Linked DNA regions of Homo sapiens. The protein of the gene in region 2 interacts with the protein of the main gene of each other region in a biochemical or structural test. Each region holds a gene or a part of one and is shown on either strand. Other genes may lie near its edges.

Region 1 (9,698 bases), on a different chromosome or scaffold from region 2:
GTAATGTTGTGGTAGATATTTTTTAGATTAACTTATATCATAAACCACTATAGAATAGAATTAAATTGGAGCTGAAAACATAATGTATCCATTTGAGTATCCATTCTACCTAATATATCCATTCTTCAAAGAGGACCCGGTTGGGGCTCAAAATAATGCAAATGGACAAACTTTACTACATACAGGACAATAAAAGATAACTTCATCAACTAGAAAAGGCTCCCTACAACCTAGGATCACTCCTTGCCAATAGACAAACCTGACCACAGCTGCAGTTCAGATAGACCAGGAGTACAGTAGTAGGGCTGGTGGAGCCAACAATATGTGACTTCATACTAAAATTAGCCATGCCCATTTCACCACAACTGGGTTGGGCTTCTCTATTTTAAGGTGTGCAGCTCCAAATTACTTAAGAGTAGGTAATTGCTGGATAGTTTCTGAAGCTAAAATTGTCAGCAGACTTTCCTCCAAGGCTTTAGGATGGCCAATCAGTCTCCACGAAACCCCTATGCTTAATCATCATGCTATCCAGGGTCTAAGCACACAGCAAGTAAAGACATATACTTTAAGTATCTAGAAAGACATACCATGCAAGAACACATTAAAAGAAAATAGGCAAGAAAAGAATTCCTTATTCTTGTCTGCTAACCCTGCCGCCTACCACACATATGCACAATACACAATATGACAAAAGTGGAGGGAAATGATGAAAATCATGACATTAAAGTATTATGCTCTCATCTTTTCAGGAAATTGTACGGAACTGACAGCTGAAACCCTTCCAAGTAATTTCACACTATCGTTTACCTCCCTGCAAAAGTGCTGTGCTATTGGAGTAAATCCAACAGAAGGGGCTACTCAGTCTGCATTCTGCGTTCTGGAAACATCAGAAGGGAAGTGGTGTAGTTTCCATTGGTACTAGCAGGAGAATGTGCACTAATGTTTAAAAAAAGACACTAAATTTCCAAACATAAATGAAAGAAAATGAAAAGATTCGCCCTTTCACCAAAACTAATGATAACTTTACCAACGAATGGTGAAGCTGAGTTGTAAGTTATATGGGCTTAACAACACACCTGAAATTCAAGCTGCACTGATAACATTCATGATTTTTACAATCCCAGGGCAAAGACTTAACACCTATTTTATTACCAGCAACTTGAGACACTCAATGCAGAATACACATTTAGTAGTATTATTTTCCTATTACTACCATGTTCCAGCAGTCCACAATATTAACACTTGCTTTGACAGATTCAATCAATTATTTTAAGAATTAACAGAACAGGCCAGGCACAGTGGCTCACGCCTGTAATCCCAACAATTTGGGAGGGCAAGGTGGGTGGATCACTTGAGCCCAGGAGTTCAAGACCAGCCTGGGCAACGTGGTGAACCCTGTCTCCACAAAAAAATATACAAAAATTAGCTGAGCATGGTGGTGTGCATTGGTAGCTCCAGCTACTCGGGAGGCTGAGGTGGGAGGATCACCTGAACCCGGGAAGGAGAGGTTGTGGTGAGCCCTGATCATGCCACTGCACAGCCTGAGGAACAGAATGAGATCTTGTCCCAAAAAAAAGAGACCTTGTCAAATAACAGAACACAGAAGACACATACCTTCATTTTCAGAGGCATGACATTTCACTTTCAACACCAAGTCAAAGGTTCTGTCTGGATTTGCCCTAAAAGGAAAAAGTTTAAATTAATTTCCTATGACAAATAAACATCTCCATGAAACTTGTATTTTCTTAATTCTAAAACTAATCTTGTTTTTGTCTCAATACATTTCACGTGACTGTATTACTACAGTATAGTAGAAATAACAATGAAACTGTTTTCTCAATTGAGCAACTTAAAAGAGCTGAGACTTAGGAATTCTGAAACTTGGGGCAAAGCATTTAAACGCTGAGACTGTTCTCCCTTACCTATGAGGTGCCTTGTCCACTTCACAGAATAATAGTGAGGATTATAAATCAAATAACATATGTGCAAGTACTTCATTAAGTACTAAGTGCTACAAAAATGCAAAGTATTGGTTTTATCTTATTGGATCAAATTTAAAAGCCAGAGTGTCCCTAAGTGTCATTATACCCTGCCAACAGAGTTTGACACAGGTTCTCAGGCTGTCTCCAAAGGACTTGCAATATAAGTGTAAATGATGAATACATGGTTCCACCTGCCAAGTTCTAGATCACCATAAAACATTGATAATGCTCCATGAATGTGATACGTTGCATATACTTTTCTTAAAATGTATTTACTGTACTTATGCATATTTAAAGTAGCAAACTATTCATAGCTCTAAGGCTAGCAACATAAAAAGCCTTCTTTTTATCCATTATCTTTGGAGAAACCAGCCATCTGCTTCCATGTTAGATTTTCCCACTAGAAACTGTAAGTTTACTTTGCTTAATTCAGAAGTTATTGACTTTTTTACTAACTTGCCATATTTGCAAAATTTCAAAGCAACATTGGTTAAATTTCAAAAAGTGAACTGAAATATACTGAGACACTTTTTCTTCATAACATTGCTGTTTAAATCTCTCGTTCCATCATAAGGTAAAAGATTAAGTCTGTTACCACAACGGCCAATGTGTTAATATCTCAGTTATTCCTGCTAACAAGACCTTAGTGCCTTTGTACATTGGCTGTATTTAATATGTACTTCCTTCAAGAAACGAATGCCAGCTCTGACTTTAAAAAAAAGCATTTCTTTTTTTGGAAGCTTTTCTTATAAGATATGAATCTGGAAACATAGGAAGTGACAAGACATATAAATTAACATGCAAATATACATTTTTTTAGCCTTTCCGCTATTAACTTGTTTCAATGGGAATAATCTGGGCTCAGATGACTTCCTCCCTCTTAAAACAATTAATGTCAAGAAGCATACTATTTTTACTCACTTACCCTGCCCACCATGATGTCAAACACACTGAAGAAAATAATTCTATTACATAATTTCCCTCTTTCCCTAATATTCTTTAGAATTTCTCTTAGGTGTAAAAGTTAAATATTGACTCAGTTTTACTTCTGTGAAATTCAAACGGCCTTTCACAATAATACAAATATACATGGCATTATTTTAAACTTTTTGAGAAGGAGATAGTAAAGGGTGGGTAAGCGAAGTAAAAAGGAATTCTTTCCAAAGTTAAGTTTCAGAAGAAAAATATAAAACTCATGCCTCTAAGATACCTAGAAACAAAATCACCACCGTTATTAAAATTGCTTTTTACCTAATCTCCTGAGCAAAGTAGTCGTTGATAAATACTTTAGCACACACATAAAAGTACCCTCTAATTGGATACCGTTTTGCAAGAACCATGCATCTACAGTTGCTGCATAAAGAAACACCAGAGACCAATCTAATTTTATAAGCAGAATCATAAGAAAACATCCAAGACAAAAGTAACAAACGGACTTAAGAAAACACCGGTTATATTTAATGCTCAGAGAGCACTCGGAATAATAACCTCTTAACCTCAACGCTGACTCCCTCCCGGACACCACACGCACACAGGCAGCCCCAGGAGAGTCACATCTGACACACTCGGGGGAAGCACGAGAACCCCTCAGCGGCGGTGTCAGGGGCCGCCCGGCCTCCCCTGTCCCCCGAAAGGCGGGCGTCGACAAGGCGCTAGTGGCCTCTCCGGGAGGAGCCGCGCCAACCACGGAGGGCCGGGGACGCAGGGCGGGCAGGCTTTGCGGCCTAGCGCCGTCCCGCCGGCCGGCCAGAGGCTTGGGGGCCGGACCGCACCCCCAGCCCGCCCGGCCAACCTCGGCCGCCCGGGGAGCCGGTTGAGCGCGGAGGCGCGGAGGAGCCGAGCTGGCCTGGGAGGGGCCGCCGAGGGACGCCCGCCCCCGACGCGCCCGGGCCCCCCCACTCACTTGGTCCTGCAGTCCATGGTTACATGTCGGTGTGGGGCTGTCCGTCCGGCCCCCGCGCGCTGGCCTGGAAGCCCGCAGCCCGGCCGCGCGAGGGTCGCGCCGTCCCCGCCCACGCCGGCGGCCACACAGGGAAAGAGGCTGCTCACAGCAGCCGTGGCGGCGGGCCCATGTCGGCTGCGCCCCCGGCACTTCCCCGCCTCCCACCCCACCCACCAGAGCCTTTCTGTGACAGCAGCGGTGGCGTGGCCGCCGCCCCCGTCTCCGCCGGTAGCCGCCACCAAAGCTGAGGCCTCTCAGTTCCTGCGACCGGGGCCGCCCGCTGCGGCTCCTGCACCTTCTTGCAAATCAGGAAGTCGCCGGGAGGGGGAAGGGGCGCGCGGGGACGCGCCCAGCGGCTTCACCTGGGCCGTGCGGCTCGCAAGTCGGAGACTGTGGAGGAGGCGGGGGCCAGGTCCCCGCGCCCGGGCGGCCAGAGGGTGCAGGGGGAGCGCTAGTGCCTGCTGGGATGGCCCACGTACCGCTTTGCCACCTAGCCAGAAAGGCAAGGTGCCCCCTGTGTCCTCAGCATGAACCAAACCGGCTTCCTTTCTGGGTCCAGTCCAGATTCCAGGGCGTCGGGGCTGCAACCCCACAAAGGGCGAAGTACCTGGAAAAGTACCTCGACCTGCAGTGTTTTCCACACACATACACACGGACTTGGGTTCCTTTCATTTCATACTACAAATTCAGAGCTCAAGTTGATGCCCCTGGCTCTTGCGTCACTCCAGCTGTGGCCTGCTTACAGCTCTCTGAAATCCAGAGCTACCCCCTCCTGATTCAGGAATGTTCAGACATGTGCACCTGCTAAATAGCCCTGTCAAGTAGCCAAATGGTAGTGCCCCACTTGTCTGCGCATGTGGGAGGCAGACATTCCTATACCACAGACTGCAGTGATAACCAAGGACTAACTTTTGAACACATGTACATAGTCGCAGGCCTCATAGTCTGGCAGTTTAGGCGAGTTCAGAGAGGGCACCACTGAATAAGCGTGGGAGGGACTGATTTACACAGCCCTAAAGCACATGTGAAGCAGGTTATGTGCACTCTCACCCAGTACTTGTCATAGGTGTGTGATAGATACTTTCATCAGCATTTTACAGATGAAGAAACCAGGGAGTAATGGCAAAGCTGGAGTTCACACCAGGTCTATCTGATGCTGATTATTTACTTCTACCTCATATTGCCTGTCTCCCTCCTCTGCTGTCTCATATTTAGGATCTACTGAGAAGACAGGTAGAAAAGTCTTATGATGGACATTCAAATGACTGTGGAAGGCCAGGCTCTTACACAGAGATCTTCTGGGAAAGGCCTTCTCCCAGCTAACACTGCCACCCTTGACACATAGCCACAGTGTTTCTTCCAAAAGGTGGTTACTTCAGACTTTATTCATGCAGAAGTTAAGATGATGAGAGGAAACCAAATGTGGTATGAATGTAGTGTGAGTCATAAGACATAAAAGTCAGAAAAGGAGTCTTAAGAATTAAAAAACTCAAGAGTCAGAGAACCTGAAGTTGCACTCAGTTATATAACCTTAAACTTTCTTGCCAAAATTGGGTACTACTTGGTCAACAGGATCAGAAATATTGTATAGCCATGGGCCTGTTAGTAAAAAATGAGGACGGGCCATAACTGGGAAACAAACAAACAAAAAAAAAATGTGTTTATCATAAAGTGTTGTCATAGCTTGACTCGGGGTGAGACACTTCAGTTTCTCGGTTCCTACATTTGTAAAATGGGAATTATTACTTGTACATCACATGAGCAGTGTGATGTTCAAGTAAAACAGGTGCTACAAATTTGTATTATCTTTTGAGAAATTATTCTGTGAATTTCAGTTTCACAATTAGGCAAACTATACTACATAAGTTTTCTTTTCCCAAATAAAGATTTTTCTGCATAAGTGACCATACTCCAAAGCCTTGAAAAAAAAAATTCGTAAGCTAAAAGCCACTTCTGCCCCAACTGTTACTGAATTTCTCAAACTTCTCCTTTCATTATAATTAATTATTTCCAAAGAAAGGAACCCTACTTGGGGTGACCATATTGAGGACTTTTTAATTTGGTGTGAGGAGATAATAATACAATTGTTTTCCTCATCCATTGTTGGGATTTTATTTTAAATGACAGTCATACCCTTGAACAGTATAAAATTGTTCTTCATTCCATTTATGTTAAGTACATCGAGGGAAATACTACACATTCGCATCCCAAAGCAAATCTTTTTAAGTGAGCTTTTAGGCTGACCATAATGAAGAGATTTATCTGTTCTGTTATTACTGAAATAAAAGGGATAGGAACATAGGTGTACATGATCTACATGCATGAGGTGTTAAAAAATTAGAAAACAAATATCATACACTTACCTTGGTAATAGCTTTAATGAAATCGATGGTATAACTTTAGTAATACTCATTTCATATAGAACTTCCCATATGACTGATAGAGAAGTGTACAAAGGGCAAACCTTCAAATTAGTCTTAAATCTTCCCAAGATCATATTTCAGCAATGATATTTCCTACTCGACAATTAATATTAACAGTTTTCAGGACCATACCAGTCAAAGAACATAGTCTGTATTGTTGTCAAAGAACATGGTCTTTATTTATTAATTAATTTCTTATTAATTAATTAATTTAGTTAATTTTTTAAATGTTTCAAGACTTAAATGTTGTATGTGGTTTGTAAAGAATATATATTCTGCAGCTTTGGGGTACAGTGTTCTAAATATATGTCCATGATCAAATACGATGATTGTGTTGTTGACATCTTCTATTACTGAATTTGCATCTGCTTGACATAATTCAATTAATGGGAGAGATGAGTTTAAATATCCCAACATGATGGTAGATTTTTCTATTTCAGCCTATAGTTCTTTCAGGTTCTACCTTACACAGTTTGGGGCTGTGTAATAATATACACATCAGTTTATAATTTCTATATCTACCTAATAAATACAACCATTCATCATTATGTTGTTACTTTCTTTACCTCCAATCGTACTTTTGCCTTAGATTCTAAACAGTTTTCTTCTGAATAGTATTTGTCTGATGTTAGGATATCTCTTTTCATCCTTTTACATTCAAACTTTCTAAACCATCATGTTTCAAATTTATCTAAAATTTTTAGTCTTGATTTTTAATCTAGTCTGATCATCTTTAGCTCTTACATCAAACCCCTAGACAATTTGCATGTATTAAAACTGTTGATAAATTTAGGCTGGGCGCAGTGGCTCATGCCTGTCATCCCATCACTTTGGGAGGCTAAGGCGGGTAGATTAGTTGAGGCCAGGAGTTCAAGACCAGCCTGGCCAACTTGGTGAAACCCTGTCTGCTAAAAATACAAAAATTAGCTGGGTGTGGTGGGTGGTGCAAGCCTGTAGTCCCAGATAATAAGGAGGCTGAGGCTTCAGAATCACTTGAACCTGGGAGGCAGAGGTTGCAGTGAGCCAAGATCATGCCGCTGCATTGCAGCCTGGTTGACAGAGTGAGACACTGTCTAAAAAAAATTAAAAAAAAAAAAGAGAGAAAAATGCTGATAAATTTAAATCTATTTCTGCCATCTAATTTTGTACTTCCCGTTTGTTTCTTCTGATCTGTTTTTTTCTTTCACTTTTGCATTCTTTAGGATTACTATTTATGCTTTCATTTCTGCCCCCACCTCTTCTAGTTTGGAAGTTATTTACTCTGTTTCTATTCATTTAGGAGTTATCCTAGAAATTTTAATAGGTACATTTTAACTGATTAAAGCCAGAGTTCACAAGGATATCCACCCTCTCTCAAACAATACAAGAACCTCTAAAACCCCCTCAAAACTAAAATCCCCCCAAAAATGCATTATGAATGTTGTTTTATACAGTCCATGTTTGTTTAGATTTACTCAGAACTTTACCATTCTTTTGTATTTTCATTTTAGATCTTCTGTGTAGGATCACTTTCCTTCTGCCTAAAATTCTTTCCCTTTTTGTTTGAGTTGGAATGTATTTATTTATCCCTCACTCTTGAAAAATATTTTCACTGATGAAGAATTCAAAGTTTACTATTATTTCTTTCTGCATGTTATCAATATCATTACACTGTCTTCTAAGTTCCCTAATAACAATTGGAACTTTGAAAGTAATCTTAAAATGTCATCTGTTTTTTCTCTCTGACTGCATTTATGATGTTTCATTTTTGTCTTTAGTTTTCTATAGTTTCACTGTGAAGTATCTAGGTGTAGATTTTTATTCATCCATGTTTCTTGGTTTCTTTAATTTTCTTGACTCTGGATTGGTGACTTTCATCAGTTCTGGAAAATTCTGGACTCCTTTCTTTCCATTCCTTCTGGGACTCTGATAACACATGTGTTATTCTACCCTCCATGTTTGTCAAACATCTCTTTTATAGTATGTCTCTCTTTATCTGTCTACGCTGTATTCTGGAAAATTTCAAAAATATTCTGTTCACTAATTCTTTCTTCAGCTTTGTCTCATTTTCTGTCAAAGTCACCCATTTAGTTTTTAATTTATATTATTTTTATTTCTAAAGTTCTGTTTGGTTATTTTCCAAATCTGTATTCTCTTAACTCATATTTTCAGCATCTCTTTAATTTATTAAAAATATTTAATATATATACTTTAAATTCTATTTCTAAAAATTCCAATATCTGAAGCATTTGTGGGTCTGCTTCTACTAACTGATCTTTTTTCTACTTGTTCATACTTATGGTCTCTTGATTTCTTCTATGTATGTGATTTCTTTTTATGTTATGTGATCCTTAGAACTTTATATATAGAAATTGAGTGACAGCTGAAATGAAAATGAGTTCTCTGGAGAAGATATTAATTTACTGCTGGTAGATGCTTGGGATCACTAGCAATTCAGAAACATAAACACTAAATTCTCAGCTTGAAATTCTTCAGACCATTCATGTGAGACCTGGTTTGTAGCTATGAATCCTCTGGGAAGCTTTTTTCCCCTTAACTATGCTCCATTGTTTGAGACAATTGTCCTTGAATACCTTTGGGGTGTATCAGCTTTATGAAGAGTATCCTGTTGGATTTCCCACATTAGGAAGGGTCTGAAGACCCATAAGACCATGATAACAGTTCATGGTCTTCCAGTTCATCCAGCTTAGGAAAAACCCTAAAGATGAAGATGAAAGGTGGCTTTTCTTTTTTTTTTTTTTTTTGAGATGGAGTCTCGCTCTGTCGCCAGGCTGGAGTGCAGTGGCGTGATCTTGGCTCACTGCAACCTCCACCTCCTGGGTTCAAGCAATTCTCCTGCCTCAGCCTCCCGAGTAGCTGGAACTACAGGCACCTGCCATCACGCCTAGCTAATTTTTGTATTTTTAGTAGAGGCAGGGTTTCACCATGTTGGTCAGGACGGTCTCCATCTCTTGACCTCGTGATCCACCCACCTCGGCCTCCCAAAGTGCTGGGATTACAGAGAGAGGTGGCTCTTGTAGCTACTTTTATTTGTCCCCCATCCTCCACCCCTAAGTATTCTCACTTGATTGCCTGCTCTTCAATGCATTGCAAGCTTTTAAAAATACTTAATTCTGAATTTTTAGTTGATTTTCATGCAAGTTTTGATCAGACTATAATGGATAATTACTTGGTTCTGACTATAGTGTCATGTAAAATGGACTAATTGCAACTTTTTAATCCACCTAATAAGGTCCACTTTCCTCAAACCAGGTCCAAAAAGTCCCCAACTTATATATCCCTATATATTAATGGTGTAGAGAAACCCAAGTTCAGGGCTTTTAGTGAGCCAACTGCCCTGATTTCCAGTGT
Region 2 (8,799 bases):
AACAAATTAAATGCTTGTAAGTATGAATCTCTCAAAACCTGAATATTCTGCAGTGTTTGCTAAAGCCCTCATAAATGAAAGATCAACATCTAATAACCTCATTGAATCTATCATTGTTCTTAGGATATCATATCTGGCCGCCTGGGTTTATCTTATCACAGATTTTTGTATCGATTCAATCAAGTATTGATTTAAGCAAGGACACTTTCTTAATATTTAAATCAAAGCATGACTTAGCACATAAAAGCAATGCTAGTAAGTTAAAAAAGAGCTGAAATTATCTCACTTATCTAATTTACATTCCTATGCAAGTAAGTCTATCTTTTATCAGTTAGTCCAAAACAGAAGCGAAGGCTACAGGCAATTCTGATTCCTTCTACCCTCTTAACAACCCTTTCTACTCTGTACCCTACCAAGAATAACTTTAAGTTCTTTTTGGAGACTCAAGCCTTTTATTCCTTTGTCCTGTAAAACCCTGTTCCCCACTTCGTACTCGGATACAGGTTTATTCCTTCCCAACTACTAGTCAGTGTGATCAGCCCACATCAAGCCCTCATTCATGAGCATAATAATAAAAACCAACTGTTATACAAGTGTTTTATTTTTTGAGCATGGAACATTATCAAAAAAATCAGAAAACATAATTCTAAAAAATACATAAAAAGGAGCTACATTAAAGTTTGGCATCTTTAGTAACAAGATATAAAACAAAGGGGGGTGGCAAAAAACAACTGGATCTTTAAATGGTCCAACAAAGCTGTCTCTTGAAAGCATCAGATTTTTAAGTTAACCAAAATTAACCTTTAAGTTCAAATATGATTAAGCCAAGTCAGAATTGAAACTGAGACGCTGATTAAGAAACACACACACACACGCACACACACAAAACTATGGTACCTGCCAGTTATCACCGGAGGTCCAACTGGACCTCAGATTGTCATTTAAAAACAAGGTAAGGCCTGGCGCTGTGGCTCATGCCTGTAATCACAGTACTTTGGGAGGCTGAGGTGGGCGAATCACCTGAGGCCAGGAGTTTGAGACCAGCCTGGCCAACATGGTAAAATCCCGTCTCTACTAAAAATACAGAAACTAGCTGGATGTGGTGGCATATGCCTATAATCCCAGATACTCTGGAGGCTGAGGCAGGAGACTCGCTTGAACCCAGGAGGCGGATGTTGCAGTGAGCCGAGATCGTGCCATTGCACTACAGCCTGGACAACAAGAGCGGAACTCAGTCTCAAAAAAAAAAAAAAAAAAAAAAAGTAAATCCAAAAATACTGACAAAGAAAAGAATTGAAGAAATCCAAGACAAATCATGACTATATCATTTTAAATTATACAAAAGCATGTAGGTAATCCAAGTTTTCTTTTAATAGGTTTTATATGTGCTTGTATGAATACTGTATGAATAATTATTTTCCTTGCTCCTCTACTGATAGGAATTTTTTTTTACCCAAAAATCATGTATTACTTTTATGAAAAGAGAAAAAAAATTGTCCAAGCAGATTTTTTTTAATTAAAATGTTGGGCTGTTTACATTTCCTGATGTATCTTTTTGAAGACGACTGCTTGAGGGCTTTAAATATATAATATTTTACATACTCATTTTACTTTTTTAAAAAGGGAAGTGTTTACAAAATCATGCAACCATTTCTAGGTCACCCCAGAATTCAAGGGGAAAAAATAATGCGCCCATAATGACTTTTAAGTATCCACAAATTATTTTCTAAATATAAATTACAAGACAACAGTTTAATGGCTCACAGCAACACAGAATGTATCTTATGCAGTTGTATCAAAAATAACAATGCTGTATAAATGCAAATTAAGAGTTTTTGAAAAAGGTATTTATAAGCTTTAATGCACGAATTAAACATATACAGTCATCACTTAAAACTTATAGTTCTTTACTCAAAAACATATTGGTCCAACAATTTTGAGCCACTTCAGTCATTTCTTATGTATTTCCTTAATGTTGCAATATTTGGCAATGAAATTTCTCCACAAAATGAAAACTATTACCAATTTTCAACTAGCCAAGATAAGACTAATCTGTATAGCCCAGCAATGGTCTCCCTCCCCTCCGTGTCCAGAAACAAGCAACTGTATTTAAAGATGTACTGGAATACTTGTTCTCCTTAACTAGACCTGCACTTTGACCAAAGTGTTACTATAGCAGGAAAACTACCTCAGAAATCTTTGCTGGCCAGGCAGTCACTCACACCTGTAATCCTAGCACTTTGGGAGGCTGAGGCAGGCGGATCGCTTGAGCCCAGGAGTTTGAAACCAGCCTGGTCAACATAGCGAGATCCATCTTTAAAGAAGAAAAAGTAAATTAGCTGGGAAGCTGTGCATGGTGGCTCACACCTGTAATCCCAGCATGTTGGGAGGCTGAGGCAGGTGGATGACCTGAGCTCAGGAGTTTGTGACCAGCCTGGACAACATGGCAAAACCCTGTCACTACAAAAAATACAAAAATTAGCCAGGTGTGAGTGGGGCACAGTGGCTCACACCTGTAATCCCAGCACTTTGGGAAGCCAAGGCGGGTGGATCACCTGAAGTCAGGAGTCAGAGACCAGCCTGACCAACATGGAGAAAGCCCGTCTCTACTCACACCTGTAATCCCAGCATGTTGGGAGGCTGAGGCAGGTGGATGACCTGAGCTCAGGAGTTTGTGACCAGCCTGGACAACATGGCAAAACCCTGTCACTACAAAAAATACAAAAATTAGCCAGGTGTGAGTGAGGCACAGTGGCTCACACCTGTAATCCCAGCACTTTGGGAAGCCAAGGCAGGTGGATCACCTGAAGTCAGGAATTAGAGACCAGCCTGACCAACATGGAGAAAGCCCGTCTCTACTAAAAATACAAAATTAGCTGGGTGTAGTGGCACATGCCTGTAATCCCAGCTACTCGGGAGGCTGAGGCAGGAGAATTGCTTGAACCTGAGAGGCGGAGGTCGCAGTGAGCTGAGATCGCGCCATTACACTCCAACCTGGGCAACAGGAGCAAAACTCCGTCTCAAAAAAAAAAAAAAATTAGCCGGTTGTGATGGCACATGCCTGTAGTCCCAGCTACTGGGTGAGGCTGAGATGGGAGGATCACTTGACCCCAGGAGGTCAAGGCTGCAGTGAGCTGTGATCGCACCACTGTGCTTCAGCCTGGGCAACAGAATTGAGACCCTGTCTCAAAACAAACAAAAATTAGGCAGGGTGGTGCCCATCTATATTCCCAGCTACGTGGGAGGCTGAGGCAGGAGGATCCCTTGAGCCCAGGGGATCAAGGCTGCAGCGAGCCATGATCACACCACTGCAATTCAGCGTAAGCAACAGAGCAAGATCCTGTCTCAAACAAACAAGGCCGGGCCCCGTGGCTCACACCTGTAATCCCAGCACTTTGGGAGGCTGAAGTGGGTGGATCACGAGGTCAGCAGTTCGCGACCAGCCTGGCCAACGTGGTGAAACCCAGTCTCTACTAAAAATACAAAAATTAGCTAGGCGTGGTGGCTGGCGCCTGTAAACCCAGCTACTTGGGAGGCTGAGGCAGGAGAATCGCTTGAACCCGGGAGGTGGAGGTTACAGTGAGCCCATACCGCGCCACGGCACTCCAGCCTGGGCAACAAAGCGAGACTCCGTCTCAAAAAAACAAACAAAAAACCCAAAAAAACAAACCTTTGCCCATAATTATGGCAGCAAGAAATACTTACATTTTAAATTTAAAAAGTTAGATCCAGCCGGGCACGGTGGCTCACACCTGAAATCCCAGCACTTTAGGAGGCCGAGGAGGGTGGATCATGAGGCCAGGAGTTTGAAACCAGCCTGGCCAACATGGTGAAACCCCATCTCTACTAAAAATACAAAAATTAGCCAGGCATGGTGGCGGGCGCCTGTAATCCCAGCTACTCGGGAGGCTGAGGCAGGAGAATTGCTTGAACCCGGGAGGTGGAGGCGCAGTGAGTCGAGATCATGCCACTGCACTCCAGCCTGGGCAACAGACCAAGACTCTGTCTCAATAAATAAATAAATAAATAAATAAATAAATAAATAAATAAATAAAACAAAAAACAAAAAAAGAACATCTATAAAAAACCTACAGCTAGTATCATAATTAGTGATGAAAAATTGAGGCCGGGTGCAGTGGCTCACACCTGTAATCCCAGCACTTTGGGAGGCTGAGGTGGATGGATCATGAGGTCAGGAGTTTGAGACCAGCCTGGCCAAGATGGTGAAACCCTGTCTCTACTAAAAAATACAAAAATTAGCCGGGCGCAGTGGCGGGTGCCTGTAATCCCAGCTACTTGGGAGGCTGAGGCAGGAGAATCGCTTGAACCCGGGAGGCGGAGTCTGTAGTGAGCCGAGATTGCGCCACTGCACTCTAGCCTAGGCAACAAAGCAAGACTCCGTCTCAAAAAAAGAAAAAAGTTAGATCCAATGATCTCAACTTTGAGGGAGAAAAAAATATTGCAGAAAGGAGTAAGACTGGAAAGACAAAAGAGTATTTTCAGATGGATAAAAAGATTTTTCATGTTTTCCTTTATCTTTCAAATTATCTACAAGTTTGAAATATACCTTCATAATTATAAGTGTGTGTGTGTACATATATATACATTTGTTTTTTGAGACAGGGTCTCGATCTGTCACCCAGCCTGGAGTGCAGTGGTGCAAACATGGCTCACTGTAGCCTCAAACTCCTGGGCTCCAGCAATCCTCCCACCTCAGCCTCCCTAGTAGCTGGGTCTACAGGGGCACGCCACCATGCCCAGCTAATTTTTAAAATTTTTTTGTAGAGATGAGGTCTTGCCATGGTATGGTGCCCAGGCTGCGTAATAGTTTAAAATAATAATTTAAAATTGAATATTTACTGCATTCTAAGCATAGTAGGTGATTCTATACATTTTTGGACTTTAATTCTCACAATAACCTTTCATTTTTCAGATGAGACATTTAATGTCCAGAAATGTCCCCCACAGTCACAGAAACAGAAGAACAGATATTTAAAAACCTGAGTCTTGCAGAAAAATTAGAACCCTCATATATTGCTAGTGGGGATGTAAACGAGGATGTAAAATGGAAATGTTTGTCAGGTCCTCAAAATGTTCAAGACGGTTACCATGACACAATTCCGCTCCTAAGTATTTATCAGAGAATTTAAAACACATGCCCACACAAAAACTTGTTCATGAATGTTGAAGAGCTAGAAAGTGAAAACAACCTAATTTTTATCATCTGATGAATGGATAAATAAAATGTGGTTTATCCATACAATGTAATTACTATTTGGCCATCAAAAGAAATGAGGTGCTTATGTGAATTTAATGAAAAGGAAAAAAAAAAGAATGAAGTACTAATATACGCTATAATATGAATGAACTTTTTTCTTCTCTTTTCTTTTCTTTTTTTTTTTTTGAGACAGAGTCTCACTCTGTCACCTAGGCTGGAGTGCAATGGCACGATCTCAGCTCACTGCAACCTCCACCTCCCGGGTTCAAGGGATTCTCGTGCCTCGGCCTCCTGAGTTGCTGGGACTACAGGTATCTGCCACCACACCCGGCTAATTTTTGTATTTTGAGTATAGATGGGGTTTCACTATGTTGTCCAGGCTGGTCTCGAACTCCTGACCTCGTGATCTGCCCGCCTCAGCCTCCCAAAGTGCTGGGATTACAGGCGTGAGCCACCGCGCCCGGCCATTATGAATGAACTTTGACAACATCATGCCAAGTGAAAAAAGCCAGACAAAGAGGCCATAAATCATGATTCCATTAAATGAAGTGTCCGGAATAGATTAACCCATAGAAACAGAAAACAGATTACGGGCTGGGAAGAAAGGGGAATGGGAATTATTACTAATGGGTATCAGGTTTCTTTGAGGGATGATGAAAAATTCTGGAATTAGACAATGGTGATGGTTACACAACTTTGAATACATATACTAAAACCCACGGAACTGTACACTTTAACAGGGTAAACTTTATGGTCTATGTATTATATCTTGATTTTTTTATTAAAAAATTTTCTAAAAAGCCAAAACCAAAAAACCTAGTTCTGATGCCAGAGACCTCAAATACTATTTACATGCTGCCATCCTGCCTTTAGGTTTTTCTGGTGGACATACTGTATCTTAATATTTTGGCCAGGCACGGTGACTCATGCCTGTAATCGCAGCACTTTGGGAGAATGAGGCAGGTGGATCACCTGAGGTCAGGAGTTTGAGACCAGCTTGACCAATATGGTGAAACCCTCTCTACTACAAATATGAAAATTAGCCGGGCATGGTGGGAGGGGGCCTGTAATCCCAGCTACTGGAGAGACTGAGGCAGAAGGATTGCTTGAACCCAGGAGGCGGAGGTTGCAGTGACCTGAGATTGCACCACTGTACTCGAGCCTGGGTGACACAGTGAGACTCCATCTCAAATATTTTTTATCAAATTCATCAGATGCTTGACCAACCAAACTGAAACTCAGGCCACCAGTTATACGGAAAAATGTGAACTTAGGTTCTGCTTCTACACACGGATGAGAAACATCTACATTTTTATCAGTTAATTAGCAGCAAATTATCAAAGTTTCCGACAGCCTATTGCACTACTATAATAATGCAAAAGGGTGCATCTAAGGATGGCTGTACCTATCAGCCAGTGGCATGAAACAGGATTTTTGCCTTTTCTGTTTCCTATATTCACATAATCAGAAGAGCCTGTTTTTTTAAAGGCTGGCAGTTATATGTTCAACCAATAACCTGAGAAAATGCTTGTAATAAGCTAAATCAAAAAGAGAGGACACAAAACTAAACATCACAACTACAATTTTAGAGGAACAAAAACTTCCTCTTAAAAGGCTGAGCGTGTACCAGGTGTGGTGGCTTACACCTGTCATCCTAGCACTTTGGGAGGTCGAGGCAGGAGGACCTCTTGAGCCCAGGAGTTTGAGATCAGCTGGGCAACAGAGCAAGACCCCCATTCTCTACAAAATAATTTAAAAATTAGCCGGGCATAGTGGCGCCTGTAGTCCTAGCTACTCCAGAGCCTAAGGCAGGAGGGATTGCTTGAATCCAGGAGTTCAAGGCTACAGTGAGCTATGATCATGCCACCTGTATGTGCCCCAGAGTATGGGTGACAGAGCAAAACCCTGTCTCAAAAAATAAAAATAAAAATAAGGCTGAGAGTAAATATGACAGAATAGTGGAATTACAGATAGGTAATTATCACTTTATTCTTTTACCTGTTTTCTAAATGTAACAGAAGGAACACATACTACTTTTAGAATCAAGAGGAAAAACATAAAAAAATTACATAAATAGATGGATTTACAAAATATGCTAAGAAACAAATATAAAACACCACTCTTTAGCTTGGTAATATTTTTTAAAGTGACAAATATAGGATCCTTTCTCCTGAACATCTCTAGACCCCCAAAACCACAGTCACATTCAAGACAATACAGAACTACACTGGCATACTACACTACACTGATATCAGCAAACTTTTTAAAAGTAACACTTTTTCAGCTTTTCAACAGGCAAGAACTGGAAAGTTCAAAGTAAAGAGATCAGAATTAGTAATTCCTCTGCAGAACACATTAGTATTTTTGGATATATACATAATTTAAGGATTCACTTAACAACATTACATCTTATCATGGATCAAGATACAGAAACCAGACTTAAAATAGGACAATGCAGCCAGGCTCAGTGGCTCGCCCTGTAACCCTAGCACTTTTCGAGGCCGAGGTGGGCGGGATCGCTTCAGCCCAAGAACAGGCAAGATAGTGAGACCTTCTTGCTACAAAAAATGTCAAAAATTAGCCAGGCAGGTCTAATGGCATGTCCTTGTTGTCTCAGCTACTCAAAAGGAAAAAAAACATAATTATTTAAAAAATATATACAAAATACAGAAGCTGGCTGGGTGTGATGGCTCATGCTTGTAATCCTAGCACTTTGGGAGGCCAAGGCAGGTGGATCACCTGAGGTCAGGAGTTCGAGACTAGCCTGGCCAACATGGTGAAACCCCGTCTCTACTAAAAATACAAACATTAGCTGGGCTTGGTGGCGGGCGCTTGTAATCCCAGCTACTGAGGAGGCAGAGGTTGCAGTGAGCCTAGATCATGCCATTGCACTCTGGCCTGGGAGACAAGAGTGAAACTCCATCTCAAAAAAAATAAACAAAATAAAATACAGACGCTATTGCTTTATTTTTATTTTTTTCAAATAGATACGGGGTCTTGCTATGTTGACCAGGCTGGCCTCAATGTGATCCTCCCAACCTGGCCTCCCAAAGTGCTGGGATAATAGGCGTGAGCCACCACACCTGGCCAGAAGCTATTGCTTCCTAACTCGAGCAGTATGGGCAATATCATCACTTGCATAACTTACCCTTATAACTAGTACATAATTTCTGTCAATCAATAGTTCAGATGATGTTAAATTTGATACACTGTGTTGGTTTTTTAATTACAGTTAACTACAAGCTAACTTCCAATATCTTTTAAAGTTACTTGAACTTTTGAAGAACAGCAGGTGTACGAATTAAATTTAAAACTTCTCCATAGTAGTTTGGCAAACCTGACACATCAGCTAACTGCTATCTCCTTTATACTTTAAAATGGTAAAGTCTGAATAAAACACTGACTCAGGAGGGCATGAATCTTATCTAAGCTTTATAAAGAAAAACGAAGCACACTAATGTAAAACATTAATAATTCCAACAGTTGAATGGGGCAGACACTTTAAAAGTGATCTATTATTTTTGCTGTCAGTCACTCATAAAGCCAGACAGAAAAATGTAAGAATTATCAAACTTCCAAAC

Evidence for each region.
Region 1: the proteins of ARF4 (region 2) and DENND1B form a complex in vitro, tested with the Homo sapiens proteins (one study listed by BioGRID).

Annotation. Positions count from the first base shown.
Region 1 is NC_000001.11:197,771,254-197,780,951, forward strand, and holds the start of DENND1B (DENN domain-containing protein 1B), read right to left. Parts: upstream 4,228-9,698; 5' UTR 3,903-4,227; coding exon 3,886-3,902; intron 3,826-3,885; exon of another isoform or gene 3,395-3,825; coding exon of another isoform or gene 3,234-3,394; intron 1,680-3,233; coding exon 1,615-1,679; intron 1-1,614. UniProt on the Homo sapiens protein: Guanine nucleotide exchange factor (GEF) for RAB35 that acts as a regulator of T-cell receptor (TCR) internalization in TH2 cells. Acts by promoting the exchange of GDP to GTP, converting inactive GDP-bound RAB35 into its active GTP-bound form.
Region 2 is NC_000003.12:57,586,081-57,594,879, forward strand, and holds part of ARF4 (ADP-ribosylation factor 4), read right to left. Parts: intron 1-8,799.